Regions from separate parts of the Homo sapiens genome. Here region 2 is linked to region 1. A link means that fine-mapping ties the variant in region 1 to the expression of a gene that starts in the linked region. Tissue or cell type: fibroblasts. Region 1 holds a variant in brackets; the other region holds the start of a gene. All regions are shown on one strand. Distances are from middle to middle.

Region 1 (5,917 bases):
CGATTCTCCTGCCTCAGCCTCCCAAGTAGCTGGGATTACAGGCATGCACCACCACACCTGGCTAATTTTTTGTATTTTTAGTGGAGACCGGGTTTCTCCATGTTGGTCAGGCTGGTCTCAAACTCCCGACTTTAGGTGATCTGCCCGCCTCAGCCTCCCAAAGTGCTGGGATTACAGGCGTGAGCCACCGTGCCCGGCTGCTAACAACTTTTAATTCTCAAGTCAAACCCTGGTCTTTCCATTAAGCCTTTCATAAACTCAGGAAAAGAGAAGAAAATCCTTTAAAAAAAAATAAATCAGCAGTGCGATTAATATTGCCCAAATGAAGCCCACAGATACCCAGGGATGGCAATTAAAGCTAGATAAGGGAGGATATAGTTAAGCATAACTTCTTGGACAAAGTCAGTCCTGAGTTGAATTCTGGAAGAGGTGCAGGCCATGGGCTAACATTAATGAAAGCACTAAGGAAGGAAGGAAGTCATGTGGCAAGGAGACTAACTTAGATGAAGCTCAAGAGTTACAGGAAAAAGTAATGAGAGCTGAGGAGGAGGGAGTCACTGTTCAACTCAGGCATTTGCTAAGCTTCAGCTCTATACAAGGCCCTGATAGGGAGGATAAAAGTGAAAAGAAACAATTCCCACCTTTTAATTTACATTTAAATGGGAGAGATCAAACGTATTCCCAAATAACAATAGTACTAAGGTAAAATGTAATGTGAACTATATTACAAATGTAAACCAAAAGCTATGGGACTATAATAATGGAAGGAATACAATAATGGCAGACTTCATGAAGGAGGTGACATTTGAACTCGGTCTTCAAGGATGGCAATATCTCAACAGGTAGTGATGAGGAGGAAATAGTCTGAGCCATCACAGAGGAAGGGAAGGGTAGGGTACTTGTAGAATAATGAGTAGTACCAAGTGATACAGGATGAGTGAGTGACAACAAGAAGGCAGTGTGTGCTCTTGAGCAAAGGAGGGATCTGATGAAACCATGTTTCAGAAAAAGTAACTGGTAGTAGTAATAATAAGTAATGGAGGGGAAGAAATGGAGTTTGCTAGGACAGTTAAGAAGCTACTGCCATAATCAGGGACAAGGAAATGAATTCCTAGAATGACAAAGAAAATGGAAAAAAAGTTTAGCCTCTAAAATGTTCTGGTTTACACATAAGTCTCTAGTTTGGATAATGTAAGTCTGCCCCCAAGAGGTGCTCACTCCCTTCTGAAACTGCAAAACTGAAAGCTCAAACCCGACACACAGCACCTCTGTGGAGATTATATGAGGACTTTTTCAAGAAATCAGTTCTGCTTCATGGCTCTTCCAAGAACATGTAGGTTAAGAAGTTAGAAAAGAATGTCAGAACATCGATGGGTGACAACAGGGAAGACTGCTGCCTGGCTGGCTGCCAGGAGGACCTAACCACATGACATTTTCCTTCATAGAGAGGCTGTGCTTCAAGCCTGGTTCTTTAGCTTCGCAGGATCAGAAAGTTAATTTTGCCAGCAAAACACGCACCTTCCTAAGCTCAAGACTAAAGGATAAGCCAGAATGTTTTAGAGGGAGAACCATAACCATAATCACAAAAAAGAGCAGAGACTTGACAAACACATCTCTGCAATTGGGACACATCACTGAGTCCACATGCCTTCTCTGAGCTGCACTTAAGATGGGCACTGCCAGCACGCATCGCTGTTCCCCTTCTCTGTGCTGCATTTCTGGCCAACCCTCTCCCCTTCCAATAGACACATTCATTCTTTAGATATGCCAATATAGGCTGGGCAAGGTGGCTCACACCTGCAATCCTAGCATTTTGGGAGGTCAAGGCAGATGGATTACTTGAGCTCAGGAGTTTGAGACCACCCTGAGCAACATGGTAAAACCCCATCTCTACAAAAAATACAAAAATTAGCCAGGTGTGGTGGCTCACACCTGTACTCCCAGCTACTTGGGAGGCCGAGGCAGGAGAGTCACTTGAGCCCAGGAGGTGAAGGTTGCAGAGAGCTGAGATCACACCACTGCACTCCAACATGGGTGACAGAGTGAGACCCCATCTCAAAAAAAATAAAATAAAAAAATAATAATAAAATATATATATATATATATATATATGGCAATAACATCAATAAGGCTACAGCCAAATCTTGCCTTGGACAATAAGCCATTCTGCCTTCTTAGGGTAACTTTTTCATTGGCCTCACCATTCTGGTTGATTTTATAGTTTAACTCTCTGAGGAAACCTTTATTTTCCTTACTTCCAGATTCTTGATGGGACATGGCTTTGCATTGCTCCCTCACATTGCCTGTGGTAGGAGTGTCTCATCATCCACCCTTTCCCTGGGGAGAAGAAAAGAAACACTTACTTCTTTTCCCAAAAATTCTGTTATTTCAACTCAGCAAGTTTATCTTCTCTACTTTTCTTAGCTCCTTTGCTCAATTCTGTTTCTTTTTCTTTTTTTTTTTTTTTTTGCAACTGAGACAGTGTCTCACTATGTTGCCCAGGTGGGTCTTGAACTTTTGGGCTCAAGCTGTCCTCCTGCCTCAGACTTCTAAGTAGCTGGGACTACAGGCATGAGCCACCATGCCTGGCCTC[G/A]GTTGCATTGCTTTAGTAGCCGCCACTTTATGCTTTAAGAACTGTTTTGCCTCACTGAAGAGAAGCTGCTGAGTCATTTTCATACTTGTTACTCAAATCAAAGTACAGGCTTCAGGCTTAGAAAAATTAAATTACTCCTTGTTTTGCCTGTGACAAAATAAAATGCACATTATTTTTTTAAAAGATATTTCTCTTTACTTGCAAGGAATGTTTTTTTGGCAATGACTTTATATATATCACAGTAGTACCCTAAAACATAATGAGGCAGATGAGAGTTTGGGGAAAAATGGTCAAGATTCATGTTGCTTTATAAACTCCATAAGGGCACAGAGTGTCAGATATATCTGATGGAATGAATGAAATAACTAACTAGTTAACAATGAATCCTCATAACTATTCATGGAAGATGGCAGAGTTTTTATCATTCTGGCCATAGAGAAATGCATTTGATGCCCCTTTTCAGCTGCAGGATAAGTTGTTAAATATGACATGAAGTCATTTTCACCACAGTTCCCCTGTGTTGGAACAAGTATGTTGGACTGAAGCCCCTTTGTTCCCTGTGGAAAGTCTGCCACCTCTGCAAACTTGTCCTCAGGAATGTCATTCTAGAAATAATCCAGCCTTCTCCCTGGGGTCTATGAGTCATACACAGAAGCTAATTCATTGGAGCAACTGGCTTTTCTTAGGCCCTTTGTAAAAGTATTTCAGAGATCCCTCCTGATGAAGCAAGGAAAGTAGAGTTCCCCCTCAGCTTCTTTCTAGTTCTTCCCTTATTTGCTCTGTGCTTCTTCCACCACCTCATATTTGGCTTTCACTGATGACCTTTACCTGCAGACCCAGGCCCCAATTCCTTAGCTAGTGTTGCCCGAAGCTGGAAGTACACCAGCAAAGCCTCATTACCCCACCTACCCAGCTCCATTCATTCAGATTTGGAATTAAATCACACTCTACCAGACCCTCCCCATCCTTTTTGCTGTTAACCACACTTGTGAGATACAGTATGCCAATGACTGATGCTCCAGGCTTGGTTCTCTACTATAAGGGGATACCCCAAAATTCATCTTTTTTCCTTTTAATTTTTTTAAATTAATTTTTTATAACAAGTAGTAATAGAACACATTTTCACTGTAAAATAACATGAAGCTGAAGTCCCCTTTGTTCAACTAAGTATTTAATTTGCATTGCTGTATAATTTTTGGTGGTTTTTATATTCTAGAATGTTTTGGGGTTGTTTGTTTGTTTGTTTTTACAGTGGATTTCTTTCTCCCATGTTTTATTTTTTATTTATTTTATTTATTTATTTATTTTTCTTTTGAGATGGAGTTGCCCAGGCTGGAATGCAGTGGCCTGATCTTGGTTCACTGTAGCCTCTGTCTCCCAGATTCAAGCAATTCTCGTGCCTCAGCCTTCCACGTAGCTGGAATTACAGGTGCCCGCCACCACACCTGGCTAATTTTTATATTTTTAGTAGAGACAGGATTTCACCATGTTGGCCAGGCTGGTCTTGAACTCCTCAGCTCAAGTGATCCACCCACCTCAGCCTCCCAAGGTGCTGGGATTACAGGTGTGAGCCACCATGCCCCACCTAGAATTTTTTTTAACACAAGAAATGCACAACTCCAATAAAATTCAAACAGTATAGAAGTATGAAGAGTAAAAAGGGAAAGTATCTCAGAACCCTGCCCTATTTCCACTTCCTGTCCACTGTTAACAGTTTGATGATAGCCTTCCAGAGCTTTGTAAAATGCATTTACATATATATATGTAGATAGTTTTATTTTTATATAAATGGGATCATGTTATATCTGTTCTACAGCTTCCTTTATTTACTTACTATCTCCTAGTTTTTCATGTCAGTACATTTAGCTTTGTTAACAAACACGTAATACTCCATAGTTTGAGTGTGTCATAATTTAAATATTCCCTATTGAGGGGATTTGAACTGCTTCCCGTTTGGGGTTTTTATTATTACAGCAATGCTATACCAAACATCTTTGCATATGCCTTTGTGTACTGCTCAAGAATGTCTCTAGGCTAGATGTCTAGAGATACAGTCAATGGATCAAAAAATAGGTGTGGAAGCTGGGCCAGTGACAAGTGCCTATAATCCCAGCTAATCCCAGCTACCTGTGAGGCTGAGACAAGAAGATTGCTTTGAGGCCAAGAGTTAGAGACCAGCCTGAGCAACATAGCGAGACCTCATCTCTAAAAAAAAGTTTTTTAAAAAATTAGTCAGTCGTGGTGGTGAGTGCTTGTAGTCCCAGCTACTCAGGAGGCTGAGGCAGGAAGATTGCTAGAGCCCAGGCATTTGGAGGCTGCAGTGAGCAATGATTGTGCATGTGAATAGCCACTGTACTTTAGCCTGGGTGACATAATGAGACCCCCGTCTCAAAAAAGAAAAGATGGATGTGTTCAAAATTTTATATTACTCAAAATTTACAATCTAAGTGAACACTTTATTTCCCTTTCTTTTGCAGAGAGTTCTATTCTGGGAACTGACATTGACCTTCAGACTATAGACAATGATATCGTCAGCATGGAGATTTTCTTCAAAGCCTGGCTACATAACAGTGGAACAGACCAAGAACAAATCCATCTTCTTCTTTCTTCACAGTGTTTCAGCAACATTTCCAGACCCAGAGATAATCCAAGTACATAATCCCCAAAAGATATTTAGGCTATGATTATTCTTATCTGGGATCAGGACTCTAGATTGGTGGTGAGTCAGTGGAATATAGCATCGTTGAGGTTTAGGGACTGGAAGAGGGTTGGATGAGGCTGTCCAATATAAGCGTGAGGAATAAGAAGAGAAGTTCTAAGAAGCAATCATAGTTAGAAAGCTGAACCTAATTAAGCCCAACCAGCAAGGGCCAGTTAGTTTAGGGGCAAAGTCTGAGACACCTCAATGACAGAGAATTGGCTAGACTACATAAGAACACAGTGGATCACATTTCTCAATATTCTCATTTTTAATGTGGTAAATATAATTGACATTATAGTTTGGAGCATGCTGCTACCTCAACAATATCAATACAGCCTGTGGCGAGAGGAAGAGAACCAAGGTTAAATAAAGATCTTCTCGCTAGGGAGGCAGCAAATGGGGGAAAACTAAAGAACCTACAGAGATACGCCCCAGGGAGGACAACCTGTGCCCAAGACCATGTTCACAAAGCAGTTCAGGCAATTACTGAAACCGAGAGATCAATCCAGTGTTCTGGTCATGCCAAAAATATCCTGGATAATGGATACTGTTCTGCCTGGCAATTATACTTCATTCCAGGTCCCACTAGATGACAGGAATAAGGCCATTTCCATTCTCCCATC
Region 2 (5,172 bases), 70 kb before region 1:
CTGAGAAGGGCAGGGATAAAGCGAAGATGGTGTCCCGGGCGCCAACATAAAGTGTGTGGGAGGCAGGATCCACAAGGAGAACAGAGTAATTGTATGTGTGAGGGACTGCGAACCGGGTGAGACAGGAGTCAGCCTCTGGCAGGAAGAGAGGAGAGTGATGTTAGCCATCGCTTCCTAAGGGTCAAGTCCACAAGAGCAAAACCAAAGGGGCCAATTTTTGTTTTCTTCCAAGTACCATTTATTAAGCAGCCATGGGGGAGAAACACAGCCTTGACAAGTGAACCAGAGATAGATGAGGCCAGAATATTTAGCACACAATCCAGTGGGTAAGTATGCTTTTTCTATAAAAATAGAGCACTAGCTGGACACGGTTGCTCACGCCTGTAATCCCAGCACTTTGGGAGGCTGAGGTGGGTGGATCACTTGAGGTCAGGAGTTTGAGACCAGCCTGGCCAACATGGTGAAATCCCGTCTCTACTAAAAATACAAAAAATTAGCCAGGCAAGGTGGCGCGCACCTGTAATCCCAGCTATTTGGGAGGCTGAGGCAGGAGAATTGCTTGAACCTGGGAGGCAGAGGTTGCAGTGAGCCAAGATCACACCACTGCACACCAGCCTGGGTGACAGAGCAAGACTCCGCTTCAAAAAAAAAAAAAATCTAAACCTCATATTAGCATTCAAAATTCGTATCTATTTAAAGACTGGAATAAGTTGGCATGAATTTACCTTCCTAGCTCAACCTCTGGTTCTGGGGACCCTACCCTTGCACCAATACAGCTCTGCTCTACCTGCTTCCTCTGCTCAGTACCCTCAAGACTGCAGACTGGACACCAACCCATTCATTCCTAGATGTACTGATGAGTCCCGCCCACTCCTTCCTCCCACACCCATACTTACCTCTGTGCCCACTCTCTCATGCTTAGTATAAGCCCTGGATCACCTAACTTCCCCTCACATCCTCAACTCTGCTTCACCTTGCTTGCCATCTAGACATCTCTGGATGCCTGGACATCAACCCAGCCTGGCAATCTCAACTTACTTTGTGGCTATTGCTTGGGTGCAAACTGAAACCCCAGGCTCTGGCCACAACTTCGCCTTCTGGAATCACAGCATCCCTATATGGCACTAGTCTGAATTTAAACTCTAAACTACTATTAACCAGTCCAGAGTTGTTGCCAACAGGTTGTACTCTTGGCTTCACTGGTTCTGTCTGCCCAAGGTGCTAATAACACTCAATGCCCACTGAGAAGACAACAAGGTCCACGGCCATGCTCATACCCACCTCAGCAGAGTCTAAAATGTGAATCGCCCCAATGATCACTTTTAACCTTGTGACGTCTCCTAGCTTCTTCCACATCTTTTCAAAGGATCATATCCCCCTCCTCTATTTTTCCTTCTGAAGACTTGAAAAATCATTTAAGCAGAACTTTACATCAACACATTGAATGGTTTACCAATATTCAATGTAGGGAATGGGCAGAGGCAGCGAGGAACACTGAGGAAGTTAAGAGAGTTAACGTGGATCCAATAATGGGAGAATGGGAGCTGCTGTCAGAGATGTCAGGGGAGCGGGAAGGGCTGTCAGAAGGGCCAAGAGGCTCGGATGATGTATAGAACTGATAGGGAAATGAATTGGAGAAGATGGAAATGCTGACCTGGAGATCGGAATGGAAAGCTGGAGTAGAATGAAAGACTGATGGGTCTGAAAGCAGAGTGGGCGTCAAGCTGGAATGATGGACCCAGGTGTATGTGCGGGGAAACAGGGGACTAAGGGAGACGGAACTTCGAAATGAACGACCTCGGGCAGCCCCCACCCGAGCTCTGGGCCTCAGTGTCCGAGTCTGCACGGTGAGGACTGGACGCTCCTGCGGCTCCGGGAATAGGGCCCGCTGGTGCAGCCTGGGCGTGTCGTGGGAGCCGAGGCGCGAGGCCCGGGCTGGGGATGAGGGGCTGAGGGGCGCGGGAGGGATGCAGAGAGGATGCGGTGAAGTGCGAAGATCTCGCCCCGGTCCCGGCGGGGCGTGGGCGGCGTGAAACGCCATACACCAGGCTGAGAGGCCCGGGTCCGGCCGAGCGGTCTGAGGAGCAGGTGGGTGTGGGTGTGGGTGTGGGCGCGAAGGGCTGAGGGCGTGGGCGTCCGCGCCTTACCAGAGATTGGAAGCGAGGTTCTGGGCACCGAGCGGGGGACGCGGCCGGATACCGGGCCGCTCAGCACCGCCAGCAGCAGTAGCGGGAAGGGCGAGGCTGTAGGCTGCCCGGGACCCGGGCGGGGCCGCGCAGCAGAGGCCGGCATCTTTGGCTCCGCCTGGCCGCGGGTGCGGCGCAAGCTACGGCCTCTGCTCAGGGCCCCGGGGCTACTGGCCTCGGCCCCACTCGGGTCCTCTCGGCTCGGTCCGGCTCAGCCTGAGGCTGAGGGATGAAACACCGCCCGGCTCCGCCCCCTCAGAAAGGGGCCAATGGTCGGGCCTCCTTCTTCCTCCAGCCAATCGGGATTGAGTGAAGGCGGGGCTGAGGGGAGGAGAGGCCTAACCCAGGCAGAGGCGGAGCTAGACCCAGGTGAAGGTGGGAGTTCTGCCTCGGAAGTGCGCTGGGGCTGCCACTCAGGGACCTCGAGTGGCGAGTTTGCTCCGGCCACTCCAAAAACTCAAACGCCCATAGCTGTACTAATAAGGAAAACTTACTAATAAGAGGACGTGGATACACGCACCAAGTTTCTCAAAATTAATACTTTGCAAGCATTTAAGGACGGCTGCCTATGTGCTGGGCAGGCACAGTGTAACGCGCGCGCGCACACACACACGCACACACACACACACACACACACACACGATTATACAGAAAATACTAAAAATCACGGCCCTTGCCCTAGGGAGTTCACACTGTAATGGGGCTTCCAAATGTAAGCAAATAACTGCAAATAGATAATTGCAATACGAAGCAATGCACGTTTGCTATAATAACGTGCAATAAGTGTGCAGAAGGGCCAGGTTTTGCCAGAGGAAATCAGGAAGGCCTCACAGAAGAGGTGACATTTGAACTGATTCTTCTAGGGTTGGTAGGCCTTTGAGGGCGAGGAACAAAGACTGCCTATGGGCATATCCACTTGGATATCCTATAAACAAGGCAAGCATAGGTCCTGAGGATAACTCACTATCTCCTCCATCCCAACCCTAGCTCCTTCTTTTTTTTTTTTTTTTTTTTTTTTTGAGACGGAGTTTCGCTCTGTCGCCCAGGCTGGAGCGCAGTGGCGCGATCTCGACTCACTGCAAGCTCCGCCTCCCGGGTTCACGCCATTCTCCTGCCTCAGCCTCCCAAGTAGCTGGGACTACAGGCGCGCGCCACCATGCCCGGCTAATTTTTGTATTTTTAGTAGAGACGGGGTTTCACCGTGTCAGCCAGGATGGTCTCGATCTCCTGACCTCGTGATCCGCCCGTCTCGGCCTCCCAAAGTGCTGGGATTACAGGCGTGAGCCACCGCGCCCGGCCCCTAGCTCCTTCTTCAAGCACTTAGTCTGCACTTAGTAGGTAGTCTTTGCTTTCTCCTCTTTCACCCCCATTGTATTAGTTATTTAGGCTGCAAAACAAATGTAACAAATTAACCTCAGAATTTGGTGGCTTAAAACAAACAAACAAAAGACATGGTCCCTGAATTCGAATTGCTTAGCCTGGAGGGAAAATCAGACATTTGGAATAAACTTTTATTATCTCTCACAATCTCTCTGCGTCAGAAATTTAGGAGTAGTTTAGCTAGGTGGTCTGGCTTCCAGTCTCTCACAAGATTACAGTCCAGATATCAAACGGGGCAGCAGTCCACTGAAGGCTTGCCTGGGGCTGGAGGATCCACTTCCAAGATGGCGGACTTCCATGCCTGCCAAATTGGTAGTGGCTGTTGGCAGTAAGTGAAGGTTGTTCTCCACATGAATTTCTCCATGGGGCTGCTTGAATGTCTTCACAAAATGGGGTGACTTCCTCAGAGCAAGTGATCCAAAAGAACAAGGCAAAAGAGCAAATGATATATTTGTGACCTAGCCTCAGAAGTAACACACAATCTCTCGGCCATATTCTACTTGTCACACAGGGCAGCCCTGATGCACTGTGGAAGGGGACTTCACCAGGTGGTACAGGGATTTCACTGGGAATACAAGGATTTCAGCCTCCTTTCTTGGAGACTAGCTACCATGCCCATATGTAAGAAATCACTATGTCCTTATAAATCTGACTAAAAAGTAACTTAAATCCATCCTTTTCTTTCCATTATCATCATAGTTCAGGACATCATCATCATTCACCTGGACTGTGTGATAATTTCATTTAAAAAACAAAAACCTAGCCTCCAGTCCCTCCCCTTCCAGACTGCCATCAGGATAATCTTTCTAAAGTGCAAGTACTAGTTCTAGTTTGTTCTTTCAACAGTTATTAAGGGCCTAATATGTGCCAGGCATTTTACTAAGTACTAGAGATAAGATTAAGACATGGTCCGTTGGCTGGGCATGGTGGCTCATGCCTGTAATCCTAGCACTTTGGGAGGCTGAGGCAGGAGGATCACTTGAAGACGAGTTCGAGACCAGCCACGTCAACATAGCAAGACCCTGTCTCTGCAAAATAATAATAATAGCAAGGCCTGGTGGCACACACCTGTAGTCTCAGCTACTTGGGAGACTGAAGCAGGAGGATCACTTGAGCCCAGGAGTTCAAGGCTGCAGGGAGCTACGATCACACCATTGCACTCTAGCCTGCCAAAAAAAAAAAGCCATTGTCCTTGAATTCAAATTGCTTAGCCTAGAGGGAAAATCAGGCATTTGGGATCAGTACTTCTAATCTTCTCTCTGAAATCTTCTTTCTAAAACCAACCTCAACACAATGGAACCCCTGCCCCCCGTCTGAGTTTCTTCCTCTAGCCCACTATATGCCTTTCCTAAGCTGCTTCTCAGCAGTCTAGTCTAGGCCTTAGTCCCTTCTCTGAACATGACTTATTGGTTGTCTTTTGATTTTTTTAATATTTTTTCAATTTTTTTCACAAAACATACAATAAGAGGTTCTTATTGTGCAACCTAATTGCACTTAAGTACATGCATTCATGTACCCAATGTACATATTAGTGAGTTAAATTTTTAACAAAGTCATACTTACATTATATTTATCTTTACTTCAGGAGCTAAATTCTCATTTTTTT

Evidence for each region. PIP is the estimated chance that this variant, and not a neighbour inherited with it, causes the effect.
Region 2: SEMA4F starts here. The variant in region 1 is fine-mapped to the expression of SEMA4F in fibroblasts (GTEx, PIP 0.96).

What each region holds. Positions count from the first base shown.
Region 1 is chr2:74,581,001-74,586,917 of GRCh38, reverse strand. It overlaps M1AP (meiosis 1 associated protein), which reads left to right. Exons shown (of 11, transcript NM_001321739.2): 5 at 5,071-5,244. Among named protein-coding and RNA genes, the nearest start is that of DOK1, 29 kb to the right of the region's middle. The variant G/A (reference allele first, on the strand shown) is at 2,594.
Region 2 is chr2:74,651,497-74,656,668 of GRCh38, reverse strand. SEMA4F (ssemaphorin 4F) reads right to left here and starts at 2,422. Exons shown (of 14, transcript NM_004263.5): 1 at 2,148-2,422; 2 at 1-135. The coding sequence starts at 2,292. RefSeq lists a silencer at 2,146-2,575.